Linked DNA regions of Homo sapiens: region 2 is linked to region 1. Evidence: fine-mapped expression QTL. Tissue or cell type: whole blood. Region 1 holds a variant in brackets; the other region holds the start of a gene. All regions are shown on one strand. Distances are from middle to middle.

Region 1 (8,201 bases):
ACCACACCTGGCCAGAAATAATGTTTTAAAAGCATGACAGGAAGTTTCCAGTCAATAAGTTTAATGTCAGGGTTGGTCAGACCATACTATACATGCTGTGAGACTTTTTCATCCTATCAGGTTTATTACATTTATTGTACATTATTGATTTAGAAACTCATAAACTACCTTTCGTTAAAATTACATTTTCAACCAAAGCAAGTTATTGGAAATAAAAAGCACTGTAGGAATTATATATATATGTACATATATACATACATATAATTGTATATATGTACATATATGTTATATATGTACATATAATATATGTAAATATATAATTATATATGTATATTATATATGTGCATATATACACAAAATATACAAATATATGTTTATATGCACATATTTAATTATATATTATATTAATTATATTAATATATTAATTGTATAGTAATATAATTAATATTAATATATTAATATAATATAGTATATTAATATAAAATTATATATGTGCATATATACATATATTTGTATGTTATATATGTATATATTTATATATAAATATGTATTTATGTTTGTATATATTTATATAAATATACATTTATATATAAATACATATATACATATAAACATATATATTTACATATAAATATATTTATATGTATATATTTAAATATATATAAATGTATACTTATACATTTATATATTATATACAAACATATTTATATACATTTTATATATATTTATATATTTTGATTTTTTATCACACTAGAAAACTGATCAATTAAAACAGAAAACTCCTATTTAAACTTGAAGCTTTACTACTTCAGTAATTTTATCATATAATACTATTTTAACATTGTAATAACATTGTAATATTTGCTTTGGCCAATACTGCCTGAAAGTAAACTCATGGCTATATTCTTAAAACCTAGATATGTCCTAAATTTCTGAATAAAAAGGGATAGACTAGTGCTTTTTATAGAATTTTATACTTTTTGTAAAAACATTCACCAAAGTAAATAAGATACAATTTGACTATATTTATTTTAATTATAAGAAGACACTTTTTGGGCATTTTCCTTCCAATCTACATGGACTCTCATCCATTCTTCTAACTGAGCACTTAGTGCAGCAGATGGCTAGAGAACATGGATGGGGTTAGCTACACCTATGTTCCCCTGAGAATCACACGAGCTAGTCCCTAGTCTGTCTTCTTTGGGGGTTTAGAGATTGGCAGGGATTGCTAGGGTCTGGTAGCATCACCTAATTCACTGGGTCCAATTTCCATTTTTCTTTAGTATGAGGGACTATATTGTGGGTCAAATGAGAAGAAGAAACGAATGTGTATGAAAGAACCCAGAGAAGAAACAGTGCTCGGTGGTTTTCAAGTTTTCAACTCTGGCTGCACTTTCCGCTAACTTGGGCAGCTTTAAAACCGTGATGCCTGGACTCCGCCCCAGTGCAGCTGAATCACAGTTTGCATTCATTGCACAAAGTATTGTTTAGAAGGTGCTTTTAGGAGTATCTTGCAGTGATCTTATAGGGCTGAGGAAGTTTGCCCATGCAGGGAGGCAGGACTTGCTTCATTTTCAAGAGACGCGGAAGTCGGGCAGCAACCTTCCCTGTTAGTTCATTGTTGTGTTTTTAGTCACAAAACAGGTCCTGGTGCATAATAAGTCTAAATAAATATCTGTTGAATAAATAAATGACAAAGTATAAAGACTAAGCTGTGTTTTCTCCTCATGGTAGGGATATGCACTCTAGGTTCTCTCTTCAAATGTGCAGCAGATTTCTCTTTAGCCATTCCACTCGCAAACTGGCATCTGTCTGACAGGCGATGTCTTAAGTCTTTTCTTATTGAACGCTATTTTATTTCTTGATGTTTATTATGGAAAGAGTAGATGATGTTTCATGTATTATTTTCTGATTAATAAATGAAAATTAGATTTTATGTTATGTTAAAATAACGTTAAGAGATTTTACTGAATAATCTATGTTTTGAGTAGATAAATTAACCGCAAAATAAAACCATTTTCATTTACCCTTTCTTCCCATCCAGAAATCAAAATGTTGTGGTCAAAATGTTCCTGATGCAAAGGATGAAGACTGTTCTTGGATAAAATCAATGTCCTGGGATACAGATACACAAAATATAAAAATCTCATAGGGCACTGAAGACATCTATGACACTGACCACAAGTGTGATCTTCCATGGTCCCAACTTTCAGAAAAGGAAGAATGACCCGGCTGAGGGAGTTCAATGGGACTGTGTTAACTGACATATTCCAATAGAAAGAAACGTATGATGCTTTAACAACTTACATGAACATTATTAACGTAATGGCTAATACTTTATCCATGAATGATACTGAAGTGATTCCATGCTGTAATATAAGGATTTGCTAAAATTACATTATAATTTATAATGTTACATCATATATACATATTTTACTCATCTGTAATTTTGTTAGAAATAATTTTAGCAGTTACTTCACAAGAAATGAAAAGTATTAGAAATAAAAAATTTGTATATTCATGAGTGCTTTGTGTAGTTTTCCTTTAAGGTACTATATAGATAGCTTTCACTGACTATTAAATTTTTTTTCCCAAATAGAGGAAATTATACACACACACACGCAAAATTTCCTTAGCACTTAGCACTTGGCACACTTAAGTGTCTGGTACAGATGTGTGTGTGTATATAAAATCAGAAGTAGATGAGCCATTTCAGGGATATTTTATTGCCTATACTAATTGAAAAATGGGACCTGAAATTTTAAGTTTGGAATGATAAATTTTCTTTAGTATTAGGGACTTGGATTAGGAAAAATCCAAGCATACAACTTTTTGGCTACTACTACTGCTGAAAAAACAAAAGAATCACATACATAGACAGTGTTCTCTTGCAACATTCTGGGAAGACTATGACATTCTCGTATCATGTAAACTGTTACTCCATTTTCTTTACTTATGTGGAAGTAGCTCTATAACTAATTAAATCTTGTGTGAAACGTGTGAATGCAGTCACTTCTTTCTTTTTTTTGAGATGGAGTCTTGCTCTGTCGCCCAGGCTGGAGTGCAGTGGCACGATCTTGGCTCACTGCAAGCTCCAGCTCCCAGCTTCACACCATTCTCCTGCCTCAGCCTCCTGAGTAACTGGGACTACAGGCACCCGCCACCATGCTCGGCTAATTTTTTTGTATTTTTAGTAGAGATGGGGTTTCACCATGTTAGCCAGGCTAGTCTTGAACTCCTGACCTCGTGATCTGCCCGCCTTGGCCTCCCAAAGTGCTGGGATTACAGGCGTAAGCCACTGTGCCTGGCCAGTCACTTCTCATTTTACTTTTTTTTTTGAGACAAGGTCTTGCTCTGTCACTCAGGCTGGAGTGCAGTGGTGGTATCATAGCTCACTACAGCCTCAAGCTCCTGGGCTCAAGAGAACCACCTGCCTCAGCCTCCCAAGTAACTGAGACTACAGGGGTGTGCCACCATGCCTGGCTAATAAAAGAAAAACATTTTTTATTTGTATTTTTTTCAAAGCCAGGGTCTTACCATCTTGCCTAGGCTGGCCTTGAACTCCTGGGCTCAAGTGATCCTCCTTCCTGCCTTGGCCTCCCAAAGTGCTGGGATTACAGGCGTGAGCCACTGTGCCTGCCCCTACAGTGATTTTTTAAAAAAGTAAATCCTCCCTTCTATTCTACCATCTATTTCTTCAGTTTTCCTACAATTTTTTTGACCATGTCATCTGTTTCCTCCAATGTCTCCTCTTCCTTCCTTCTCCTTCAACTGCATTCTCATTGACCTGAGAATTTCTCTACTCTTTCAATTTCTGAGGTCTCATTCATTTTTCAGTGTTCAGTTCTCAGATGATGTCCCAAAACCCATCCAGTTTCTCAGGCCCTGACTCTTCTTTGCCACCCCGACAGCTTATATCTACACCCCAGAAGCTGATTCTCCACGGCTGGAGCTGACCAGATTCCAGATCACAGTCGCCACACTCCCAACCTGCTAACTGGCTGCTCCTCTCTCTTCCCTGTTCCTATGACAAGCATCGATATTCTTCAGTCTCCCACGGGCTCTACTCCTAAGCAGGGAGGCCCTCAAGGGCTATTCCTGCATTGTTCTGTACTAGAGTGTGAGCTTCATGTGGGCAAGGCTCAGGTCTGTTGTGATCAATGCTGTCAGCCCAGGGTCTAGAGCAGTAGTGCCCAGGATGGAACAAACATGCAGCGTGAATTTTTGTACAAATGACATGAACAGCTCCATCTATTCATGACATACCACATACCTTTGCTTTGCCACATG[A/G]ATTTTAAAAATATATTAAAGTAGAAAATTATCTCAATAGATGCAGAAAAAGCCTTCGATAAAATTCAACACCCTTTCATGCTAAAAACGCTCAATAAACCAGGTACTGATGGAACGTATCTCAAAATAATAAGAGCTATTTATGACAAACACGCAGCCAATATCATACTGAATGGGCAAAACCTGGAAGCAGTCCCTTTGAAAACCAGCACAAGACAAGGATGCCCTCTCTCACCACTCCTATTCAACATAGTGTTGGAAGTTCTGGCCAGGGCAATCAGGCAAGATAAATAAATAAAGGGTATTCAAATAGGAAGAGAGGAAGTCAAATTATCTCTGTTTGCAGATGACACAATTGTATATTTAGAAAACCCCATTGTCTCAGCCCAAAAACTCCTTAAGCTGATAAGCAATTTCAGCAAAGTCTCAGGATACAAAATAAATGTGCAAAAATCATAAGCATTCCTATACACCAATAATAGAGAGTCAAATCATGAGTGAACTCCCATTTACGATTGCTACAAAGAGAATAAAATACTTAGGAATAAAACTTAAAGTGATGTGAAGGACCTCTTCAAGGAAAACTACAAACCATTGTTCAAGGAAATAAGAGAGGACACAAACAAATGGAAAAAAATTCCATGCTCATGGATAGGAAGAATCAATATCGTAAAAATGACTATACTGCCCAAAGTAATTTATAGATTCAACGCTATTTCCATCAAGCTACAATTGACTTTCTTCACAGAATTAGAAAAAACTACGTTAAATTTCATATGGAACCAAAAAAGAGCCCATATAGCCAAGCAAAAAGAACAAAGCTGGCGGCATCATGCCACCTGACTTCAAACTATACTACAAGGCTACAGTAAAAAAACAGCTTGGTACTGGTACCAAAACAGATATATAGACCAATGGAACAGAACAGAGGCCTCAGAAATAACACCACACATCTACAACCATCTGATCTTTGACAAACCTGACAAAAACAAGCAATGGGTAAAGGATTCCCTATTTAATAAATGGTGTTGGGAAAACTGGCTAGCCATATGCAGAAAACTGAAACTGGACCTCTTCCTTACACCTTATACAAAAATTAACTCAAGATGGACTAAAGATTTAAATGTAAGGCCTAAAACCATAAAAACCCTAGAAGAAAACCTAGGCAATACCATTCAGGACATAGGCATGGGCAAAGACTTCATGACTAAAACACCAAAAGCATTGGCAACAAAAGCCAAAATAGACAAATGGAATATAATTAAACTAAAGAGCTTCTGCACAGTAAAAGAAACTATCATCAGAGTGAACAGGCAACCTACAGAATGGGAGAACATTTTTGTAATCTATCCATTTGACAAAGGGCTAATATCCAGAATCTACAGGGAACTTAAACAAATTTACAAGAAAAAAACAACCCCATCAAAAAGTGGGCGAAGGATATGAACAGACACTTTTCAAAAGAAGACATTTATGCAGCCAACAAACATTAAAAAAAAAGCTCATCATCACTGGTCATTAGAGAAATGCAAATCAAAACCACAATGAGATACCATCTCATGCCAGTTAGAATGGCGATCATTAAAATGTCTGGAAACAACAGATGCTGGAGAGGATGTGGAGAAATAGGAACACTTTTACACTGTTGGTGGGAGTGTAAATTAGTTCAAACATTGTGGAAGACAGTGTGGCAATTCTTCAAGGATCTAGAACTAGAAATACCATTTGACTCAGCAATCCCATTACTGGTTATACACCCAAAGGATTATAAATTATTCTAATATAAAGATACATGCACACGTATGTTTATTGCAGCGCTATTCACAACAGCAAAGACTTGGAAACAACCCAAATGCCTATCAATGATAGACTGGATAAAGAAAATATGCCACATATACACCATGGAATACTATGCAGCCATAAAAAAGAATGAGTTCATGTCCTTTGCAGGGATATGGATGAAGGTGGAAACCATCATTCTCAGCAAACTAACACAGGAACAGAAAACCAAACACCACATGTTCTCACTCATAAGTGGGAGTTGAACAATGAGAACAATGAGGGCATGGGGTGGTGAACATCACACACTGGGGCCTGTCAGCGAGTGGAGGCAAGGAGAGGGGTAGCGTTAGGAGAAATAAGCAATGTAGATGACGGGTTGATGGGTGCAGCAAACCACAATGGCACATGTATACCTATGTGACAAACCTGTACGTTCTGCATATGTATCCCAGAACTTAAGTATAATTAAAAAAAAGAAAAAAGAAAATAATAACCAATATTTGTGGATCACTGTTTTCTGCATTTGATACTTATCTGCTTTATTTCTTACAAAAACCTTATGATGAGGCAGAGGGAACATATTGTTAAATTTCCACTTTAGAAATGTTAAACTGAGACTCGATGGGCAAGTAATGAGTCTAATTTCTTCACCTGAATTTGGTTTCATCTTCTCTTAACTTCTTACAGACTTTGCTTCATCTAGAATCTCCTATTGGCTTTGTCTCATGTGACTGTCCCCTGCTTTCAACTCCCACTCTCTCAATGGCTTACTCTCTCTTGCCTAACAATTGGAATATTGTACTAATTAACCTCCTATTTCTTTTTTCTTTTTTTCTCTTTTTTTTTTTTTTTTTTTTTTTTGAGACAGGGTCTTGCTTTGTCACCCAGGTTGGAGTACAGTGGCTTGATCTCGGTGCACTGCAACCTCTGCCTCCCAGGCTTAAGTGATCCTCCTGTCTCAGCCTCCCGAGTAGCTGGGACCACAGGCTAGTGCCACCATGCCCTGATTCTTGTATTTTTTTGCAGAGACAGGGGTCTCACTATGTTGCCCAGGCTGGTCTCGAACTCCTGGGCTCAAGCAATCCACCCATGTTGGGATTACAAGCATGAGCTACCATGCCTGGCCCTATTTCCATTCTTAACAAAATTCTATTTTATACTTCTACCAGAATTACCTTCAAAAAATACAAATTTGATGTCATTCTTCTTAAAAACTACAATAGTTTCCCTGACCTCCCAGAAGATTTCATCTTTTCCCAGACATGGTAATACAGAAACTAGAATAAAACAATTTCTATAATCCAGATTGAAGAGTAATGAAAAAATAATTTGGTACAAGAAATTTTCAATTAGCCTTCACAGTGCAGGGAGTATGGTTTCAGTATCTTTTGAAAGTAACATGTATTGGCCGGGCGCAGTGTCTCATTCCTATAATCCCAGCACTTTGGGAGGCCAAGGCGGGTGGATCACCTGAGGTTGGGAGTTCAAGACCAGCCTGACCAACATGGTGAAACCCTGTCTCTACTAAAAATACAAAATTAGCCGGCCGTGGTGGCACATGCCTGTAATCCCAGCTACTTGGGAGGCTGAGGCAGGAGAATCGCTTGAACCCGGGAGGTGGAGGTTGCAGTGAGCCGAGATTGTGTCATTGCACTCCAGCCTGGGCAACAAGAACAAAACTCCATCTCAAAAAAAAAAAAAAAAAAAAAAAAAGAAAGTGACATGCATTTTTCCATATAACAATTTGAAAGACACAAGCTTCAAATGGCATTCATTTTATGTGTGTAGAGGTATTATAGTAATAGTTAATACAGCTATGCATAAGATGTACTTAGGGCTGATGTGTCTAGCTAGCTAAAGGCAATACTGCTTATTACTATTGCTCTCATATTAAAAATTAACATTTTGTGAAAAACACACAATGCACTAGAATGGCCTTGGTTAAACCATCAGGCGGAGCCAGTCTACAGATAATGCTGCCTCAATTCCTAGATGTCGTGGAAATAAAACTCTTAATGTTTTATTACTTCATCGTCTGAAGTTAAACAAGTCCTACAGGAGGATAACAGTAGGCCAGAGTCATAACATTGCTCTATGTAATATCAGCACACTGACGCTAAATTCTTTTT
Region 2 (8,177 bases), 50 kb after region 1:
GGATTACAGGCGTGAGCCACCGTGCCCATCCTTCTTCTTTTACTTTTAAGGCCCCACTGTGATTCTACTGGGCCCACCTGGATAAGCCAGGCTAATTTCCCATCTCAAGATCTCCCATCTCAAGATCCTTAATGTAATCACATCTCAAAGTCCCTTTTACCACATAACATGTTCACAGGTTCTGGGGACTAGGAAGAGGACATCTTTGGGGAATCATTATTCTGCCCTCTACGGTGATTTTAAACCTTATTTGACCTGAGTAAAAATAAAAATAAAAAAAAGGTATGTTCTAAGGTTTTAATTCATTTGCATTAAAAATGTTATTTTATTGGAAGGGTTATATATCCTTTACCAAAGGATTTGTAAAATGAGGGAATGTCATTATCACAATTGTCTTTTCACACATGCCTAAAGGTGAATTTAATGGCATTTATGATCACCCAACTACCAAGAAATACATAAAAGATGTATTACATTCTCTTGTTTGTAAATGAGAAGACTAGTATTCAAATGTTCTCTTTCAGCTTTATAATCCTATGAAAAGGTGGAAGTTCTTGATTCACATTAGACTTGTGTTAAATTTCTAGACCCTTTCAAAGGAAAAATCAGATACTCCCATTTCTGTATTTGTGTAACTGACTTCTCATACCTAAGTAAAACTTCACAGCTTTCCAATTAAGTTTCATTTTTTGGTTTCAGCCCAGTTATATATACCCAATCAAGATAATTTAGAACCTTGACTCCCTTCAGTCATAAGTTAGTTATCCATTCCAGCCATGTGTCATCTGAAAAACTGAAGATTTATCCAGTTCAACATAAAATTTTGAACATGAAAGAACTAAACGACATTCTAGGATAGAGACAGATTGACACAAAAGCATACTCTTTTTGGATATGGTCATTTAGTTACTCACCAGCAAGTACTAAAAGTACTGCTGTGGTCTGGATATGGTTTGTCGTCTCCACTAAAACTCACATGGAAATTTAATTTCCAATATGGCAGTGTTGGGAAGTGGGGCCTAGTGGGAGGTGTTTGGAACATGGGTGGATCCCTCATGAATGGCTTGGCACCAGTTCTCGCAGTAGTGAGGGAACTCTTACTCTCAAGAGACTGGATTAAGTTCTCACAGGACTAGTTCCAGAGACAGCAAGTTGCTACAAAATGAGGTACTTCCTCCTGTTTGGCCACTTCCCACGGATCTGCTTCCCCTTTGACCTTCTCCATCATGTTATGAAACAACAAGAAAAGCCCTCACTAGAAGGCAAGCAGATGCCAGCACCATGCTCTTGTACTTCTCAGTCTGCAGAGCTGTGAGCTAAATAGATCTCTTTATAGACTATCCAGTTTCAGATACTCTGTTAGAGCAACATAAGATGGATTAAGACAAGTACTCTCCTGAACACTTTTTTTTTTTTTTTTTTGAGACAGAGTTTCGCTTTGTCGCCCAGGCTGGAGTGCAGTGGCGTGATCTTGGCTCACTGCAACCTCCGCCTTCTGGGTTTAAGTGATCCTCCTGCGTCAGCCTCCCAAGTACCTGGGATTACAGGTACATGCCACCATGCCCGGCTACTCTCCTGAACACTTAAAAAATATTTTATTCATAAGGATATCAGAGGAGAATATTATCCTTATCCATAAGCAAATTATGGATAAAATATCAGTATTTTATCCATTAGGATATCAATGATTATGATTTGTAAGATAATACTTCCTCAAAATTGAGATTTTTCTGTCTTGTGCATTACTCAGATATACTAATAAACTAATCAATAGATTACTTCAATATACTAATCAACTATCAAAAAAGTTGTTCCTAATGAACCACCATTGATTCTTGTTTCTAATCTGTTGGTCTGATTGGATAGTAATGATTTGTAAGCAACCACTTAAAGGCACCAGAAAGTGTTTTTGGAAGGATTAGAAAATTTTAAAATTGAATCCTTTTCTAATATAAATGATCACTCTTCAAATTTAAATTTTCTATTTTAGTTTTCTTACAGTGATAGACATCTCTTATAGAAAAAGAATTTGTTAGAACAAGATAATTATGAATTTAGAAAGAGCGTTTGAAATAAGCATCAATAATTACATTGTTGATGTTCAATCATCAGTTTGACAATTCGTATTAAGTGCTTACTATGTACCAGGCATTGTACTAGGTGAACAAAAGATGCAAAAGTTCCTGCATCCATGGAGCTTGCATTCCTATAAAGTTCTGCTGAATTCAACATTTGAGGCTTATGGAAAGAACTTTAGAGAACCGTTTAACTTTAAGAGAACTTTAAGAGTTTATGTTTTTTTTGCTGGGTGTGGTGGCTCAGGCCTGTAATCCCAGCATTTTGGGAGGCCGAGGCGGGCGGATCATGAGGTCAGGAGATCGAGAGTATCCTGGCTAACATGGTGAAACCCCGTCTCTACTAAAAAAATACAAAAAAAAAAAAAAAAAAAAAAAGAGCCGGGCGTGGTGGCGGGCGCCTGTAGTCCCAGCTACTTGGGAGGCTGAGGCAGGAGAATGGCGTGAACCCGGGAGGTGGAGGTTGCAGTGAGCCGAGATTGTGCCACTGCACTCCAGCCTGGGCGACAGAGCGAGACTCCGTCTCAAAAAAAAAAAAAGAAAAAAAAAAAGGCTTATGTTTTGTTTTTTTTCTTTCCTATGTATGTTTGAATATTTGCAACTGTTCATGGATGTAAAAACACAAACTGCCGTCCGGGCGCGGTGGCTCACGCTTGTAATCCCAGCACTTTGGGAGGCCGAGGCGGGCGGATCACTTGAGGCCAAGAGTTTGAGACCAGCCTGGCCAACGTGGCAAAACCCTGTCTCTACTAAAAATACAAAGATTAGCCGGGGGTGGTGGAGGGCGCCTCTAGTCCCAGCTACTTGGGAGGCTGAGGCAGGAGAATCGTTTGATCGGGGAGGAGTGGGGGAGGGGGGCGGAGGTTGCAGTGAGCGGAGATCGCGTCATTGCAGTCCAGCCTGGGCGACAAGAGCGAAACTCCGTCTCAAAACAACAACAGCAACCACCACCACCACCACCACCACCACCACAAAAAACCAATCTGTGGTCCTGCATGGAAGAATAATCTTACTCCTGCTCAAAGCCTGCCGAAGAGATTTACTCGGCTCCCATTTTGGATATGCTACTGTTGGATATCTTTGCACCGCGGTCTCCTCATCTGCATAATGGAGTTATAAAATCAACTTCACAGCACTGTGGATTAACTAAGAAAACGTATTTGAATGCCCCCCGTAAGGTGCTCAGCACGTAGTTGGCCCTCAATACACACTGGTACAATTCAAACTTTGTGAAATGAGCCAATTCGTGTACATGTTAAGGACCACGGCAGCAACTCATATCACTAAAAGTTAACTGATGCCCAACCCATGCCCCTTCCTGCTTCACTCCTCCACACCACGGGAGATTCCTTAGGGCAGAACTTTTATTTCGGCAGAGTGCAGCCAAGGGAAGACAGCATAAGCAGCTTTTTTGCCAGGGCGAAGGGGCCAGACCCCGGCCTGGGGATGGGGTGCAAGTATGGACCACACAGGGGCTGGCTTGGTCACTCACGGCTGCGTCAGGCTGTCCCGGTAACGGCTGCGCTGGCAGGGCAGTGCTCGGGGCCGGCTGGTGTAGGTGTAGGTGCTCGGGGCCCGAGAGGTGCGATCAGTCAGCGCTGAGGCCATGTCCGGGGGCTGACTGCCTCGCTTTCGGTGGAGCTTGGCTTTGAAGCAGGTGGGCGCTAAGGTGTTGTGGGACCCGGAGAGATGTAAGTAGTGCCAAGGGCAAGGATTCCGCGACGCGAGGAGAGGCGACAACAAGGGAGGCGGGCGGGACGGGAGGTTACCAGCGCAGGAGGTGGGAGCTATACTGGGCTCGCTCCCAGCACCACAGAGACCAGCTGCGGGGGCCGCATCGGTTGCCCAGCAACCCAGGGTTCTGTCTGGGGGCGGGAACTCCGGGCAGTTCCGGTCCCCAGGTTTCCCGGGAAGGACTGCGGCACAAGGGACTTCCGGCTCTTGACTCCGCCCAGCCGCGCCACCCAGGTAGGTGCGCCTGCGCTTTGCGAGGTTCCTGGCTAGGGAGGCGGCCTTGGCTGGCTTGACCGTCATCCTTGAGGCCTGCGGGGCAACGGTGGCTGTCCTTGGCCCGGCTTTGGAATGTGGCTTTGCAGGGCTGGTGTTGGCGCCATTCTCGCAGGCCCACGTGCTCCTGCTCTTCCAGGGTGTCCTCGGCTGTTTCTCCTGCCGCGGCGCAGCAGCGCTCCCAGGCTGCCCCCGCGATAACACGCCCCTGGCAGCCAGGCTCCCAGCTCTGTTACGTGCCCGGGCGGGGAAGAGCTTCCTGGTGTCTCCCGGCTCCTGCCCTTCTCCCGCCCCAGGGGCGGGCTGCCGCCGCCCTCTGCAGCTGAGTCAGTGCAGTTCCTCACCTACCTTCTCTGCTCACCGCTGTGTGCTAGCAATCGGAGGACCCTTGGCACACGGAGCGACAGGGGCCTCCCCCACAGACACCTCATTTTGGGAAAGAAGTGAGCAATTTATTGAGTCTTAAAAAATACAAAGGCATAGTTCCCCTTAATCTATCAGGCTTCCAGCTCTAAAGAATGTCTCTAGTATTGCGGGGTGGGGCTGCGCTTAAAAACGCAGACGCTTTGGTTTTAGTACCAGCAACGTTAAAAATCTTCTATCTTGTATGAGTGAATGTGTATCCCTTGTGATCAGTTATTTGCATTTGCAGTTACACCTTCATTCAGCTAATTGCTGTCTTGATTTGAATCCAGGTTCTAGAATGTACTAGCTCCGAAACCTCAGGCAAGTTAAATGTTTTTGTGCTTCATTTTCCTAATCCACAAAGTGGCAATAGAAGAATTTATCTCTTTAGGTTTTGTCTTGAGGATTAAAACCGTTAATACTTAGAGCTGTGCCTGGTAAATGGCAAGCCTTTATATTAAGATCTGGACCGTTCTGTGCTTTGAAGTGTATGACCTAAAGCAGATGTAGGCATTCTATAAGTAACACTAGCATAAAGGTGTATGGTAAATTCTAGAGGTGAAAACACTCCCAACATATTTTAGGTCTGATCATTTAATTTTGAGGTAATTTCTGAAAGGGCTAGAGGAGAAAGTGACATTTAAGTTGTGTTTGATAAATGATAGTATTTTAACTGGCCAGCCTCTTGGGGGAAGTGCATTCGGAATGGCTTGATCAAAGGCTCAAGAAGCCCAAGGTGCATTTGGAAAACTGTAAGCAAGGTTTGTGTAGATGAGTTGTAGAAATATATATAGACAGGCTGACACCACATCGTGGAAACAGTAAACACTAGCATATTAATTAGAATATTTTTTCCCTCAAGTAACAAAAAACCAATTCCAAGTGGCTGAAATAATAAGGAATTCATTATTTTACACTCCCCAGGTTGGTTAACCTGGAGGGTAACTTGGGGGCTCAGCACATTATCAACAACACGTTTTTTCCCCTACCTTTCCACTCTGTCACCTGGGTTGTTGGCTTCAACAAAGTAGTAATAGAAGTATCTGCTCTTTTGTCTTTATTGGAAGAGCAAAACCCCCTCGTAAACTCCCAACTGACCAGAATTACATCATATTGATTTAAGCTTAGGATCTATATAAGACCACCATATTTGGATTAGACCAGGTAACCGGTCTTTCTAGGCCTCCAAGAAACACTTGGCCAGGGAGGAGGAGAACAAATTCTGTTAGGAGGATGTTGGGGCAGAATTGAGTGGGTATTAAGTGGGTAAACAATAGTGCTATACCAGCCACAGTGGGCTTTATAAAGAAATTGATAGCCACTATAGGTTCTTGTACAAGTTTCTTTCTTTTTTTTTTTTTTTAGATGGAGTCTCGCTCTGTGGCCAGGCTGGAGTGCAGTGGCGCGATCTTGGCTCACTGCAACCTCCGCCTCCCCGGTTCAAGTGGTTCTCCTGCCTCAGCCTCCTGAGTAGCTGGGACTACAGGCGTGTGCCACCCCGTCCAGCTAATTTCTGTATTTTTAGTAGAGGCGGGGTTTCACCATGTTGGCCAGGATGGTCTTGTTCTCTTGACCTGGTGATCCGCCCTCCTCAGCCTCCCAAAGTGTTGGGATTACAGGCGTGAGCCACTGTGCCTGGCCTGTACAAGTTTTTATCCACAGCCTGTTTCTCTTCTTGTACTTTCTCCCAGGGCAGTCCCATTTCACGTCTGTAATTTCTAGTACCACCTATATACTCAGGGTAGCAAAGGATGTATCTCTAACCTAGACTTCTCCCTCAGGTGACAGTCCTGGATATCTGACTATTTTGTGGACAACTCTTGGATGATCTGAAACTGAAAGATTCATTCCACAAATAGTTATGTGTATCTAGTATGTGCCAAGCATTGTTGTTTTCTTGTCCCTCGTCCCCACTCCCCTGGTGTTAGTGGGGATATAGCAGTGAAAAACAAAAACAAACAACAGATTAAAAGTCCTGCCTTGACAGAATTTATATTCTAGTGGAGGAGTCATACAAACAAGAAAAGTGAGTACATTATGGGTGTTACATAATTATAATAGCTAATTCGAAATAAAGCAGGAAATAAGGCTAGGTGCTAGGGGCATGGGAGACCTATCAATTTTATAGTGGTCAGAGAAGGCTTCATTGAGAAGGTGACATTTGAGTAAAGACTTGAAGGAGGTGAAGAAATGAAACTTGAGACTTGTGACTAATTGTCACAGCATTCCAGGTCAAGGAAGCAGCCAATTCCTCGTTCTAAGGCAGGAAGTCGTGTTGGGGATGGCAGTAAGAGTGAGTGGAGCAGAGTGAGCACAAGGAGGAGCATTCGGAGATGAAGTCAGAGGCTGGGCCGTGCGCCCTGTTGTAGGTCAGTGAAAGGACTTTAGGTTTTACTCTAGGGTTAAAAGTCCCTAAAGGGTTTTGAGTAGAAGCTTGACATAGTTTGATTAAAAAAATTTGTTTTTTCTAGTTGTTTGGTTGAGAATAGACTGAAGTGGGGCAAAGGCAGAAGCAGAGAGACCAGATAGGAAGCTGCTCCCAATAAGGCTGGTGAGAGGGTGGCTTGGATCTGGTGTAGGTGTGGTGCTCGGGCCCGAGAGATGCAGTGAGTCAGTGCCGAGGCCATGTCGGGGGACAGACTGCCTTGCTTTCAGTGGAGCTTGGTTCTGGATCTGGGACAAAAGTGGTGGGAAGATCCCAGCTCAATTTTGAAGGTAGAACAGATTGGACGTGACGTGGTGCACGAGAGAAAGAAAGGCAAAAGAGATGAACCTAAGGTTTCTGATTAAATGTTAGACATTGTGTAGGAAAAAAATCACATAGAGGCTCTGGCAAAAAAAAAAAAACTAAATAAATAAATAAAAAATAAATAAATAAATTGCATAGAGACTGTGGCTGATGTTGTGTTTCTCCAGAAAGGATTTAATTTTATTCTGGCAAGCAATTAGAGTAGGAACGGATGACTTTTTTTTTTTTTTTTTTTGAGGCGGAGTTTTGCTCTTGTTGCCCAGGCTGGAGTACAATGGCACTGTCTTGGCTCACTGTGGCCTCCACCTCCCGGGTTCAAGCAATTCTCCTGTCTCACCTCCCAGGTAGCTGGGATTACAGGTGTGCACCACCATGCCCGGCCAATTTTGTATTTTTTTAGTAGAGACTGGGTTTCACCATGTTGATCAGGCTGGTCTCGAACTCCTGACCTCAAGTGATCCACCTGCATTGGCCTCCTAAAGTACTGGGATTACAGGTGTGAGCCCCTGCGCCTGGCCTCAGATGACCTTTAATTAGGGATTCAGACTTTGTGAGGGCTGATCATTTTCTAGTTTGGCCTTATCCCAGAGCTAGGCCTTTCTATTCTTTCTCAACATGAACATCTGTGGTATTTAACAGGTCCCCATCTTTGGGTGACCTTGAACTCCAATTTTTGTACTCCCAGCTCTGTGAGACTGTTGAAATGTACACTTAGCATTTTAGCTATTTAGCAACTGTTTGGTTTCTTGATTTCCAGTGCCCTTACAGCTTAGAATTCAGCAAATGCCTCAAGGATAAAAGCCAAACTAAATGTCAGACTGGCTTCTCTATGATCCTCCTTTCTTTGGGATCTGTCCCTTCAAGTCCTATCCGCAGTTTTCAACTCCAATTTTTTATCTCCCCGTATCTGAAAGGGCCCTGATACCTCCAGGTCACTGCTT

Evidence for each region. PIP is the estimated chance that this variant, and not a neighbour inherited with it, causes the effect.
Region 2: it holds the start of RSPH3, and the variant in region 1 is fine-mapped to the expression of RSPH3 in whole blood (INTERVAL, PIP 0.97).

The regions. Positions count from the first base shown.
Region 1 is chr6:158,946,002-158,954,202 of GRCh38, forward strand. No RefSeq gene overlaps it. Among named protein-coding and RNA genes, the nearest start is that of TAGAP-AS1, 50 kb to the right of the region's middle. The variant A/G (reference allele first, on the strand shown) is at 4,291.
Region 2 is chr6:158,995,868-159,004,044 of GRCh38, forward strand. RSPH3 (radial spoke head 3) reads right to left here and starts at 4,335. Exons shown (of 8, transcript NM_031924.8): 1 at 3,568-4,335. The coding sequence starts at 3,683. It overlaps TAGAP-AS1 (TAGAP antisense RNA 1), which reads left to right and starts at 4,006. Exons shown (of 5, transcript NR_183546.1): 1 at 4,006-4,525. RefSeq lists enhancers at 3,078-4,049, 3,534-3,683, 3,704-3,753, 3,784-3,853, 4,024-4,183 and 2 more.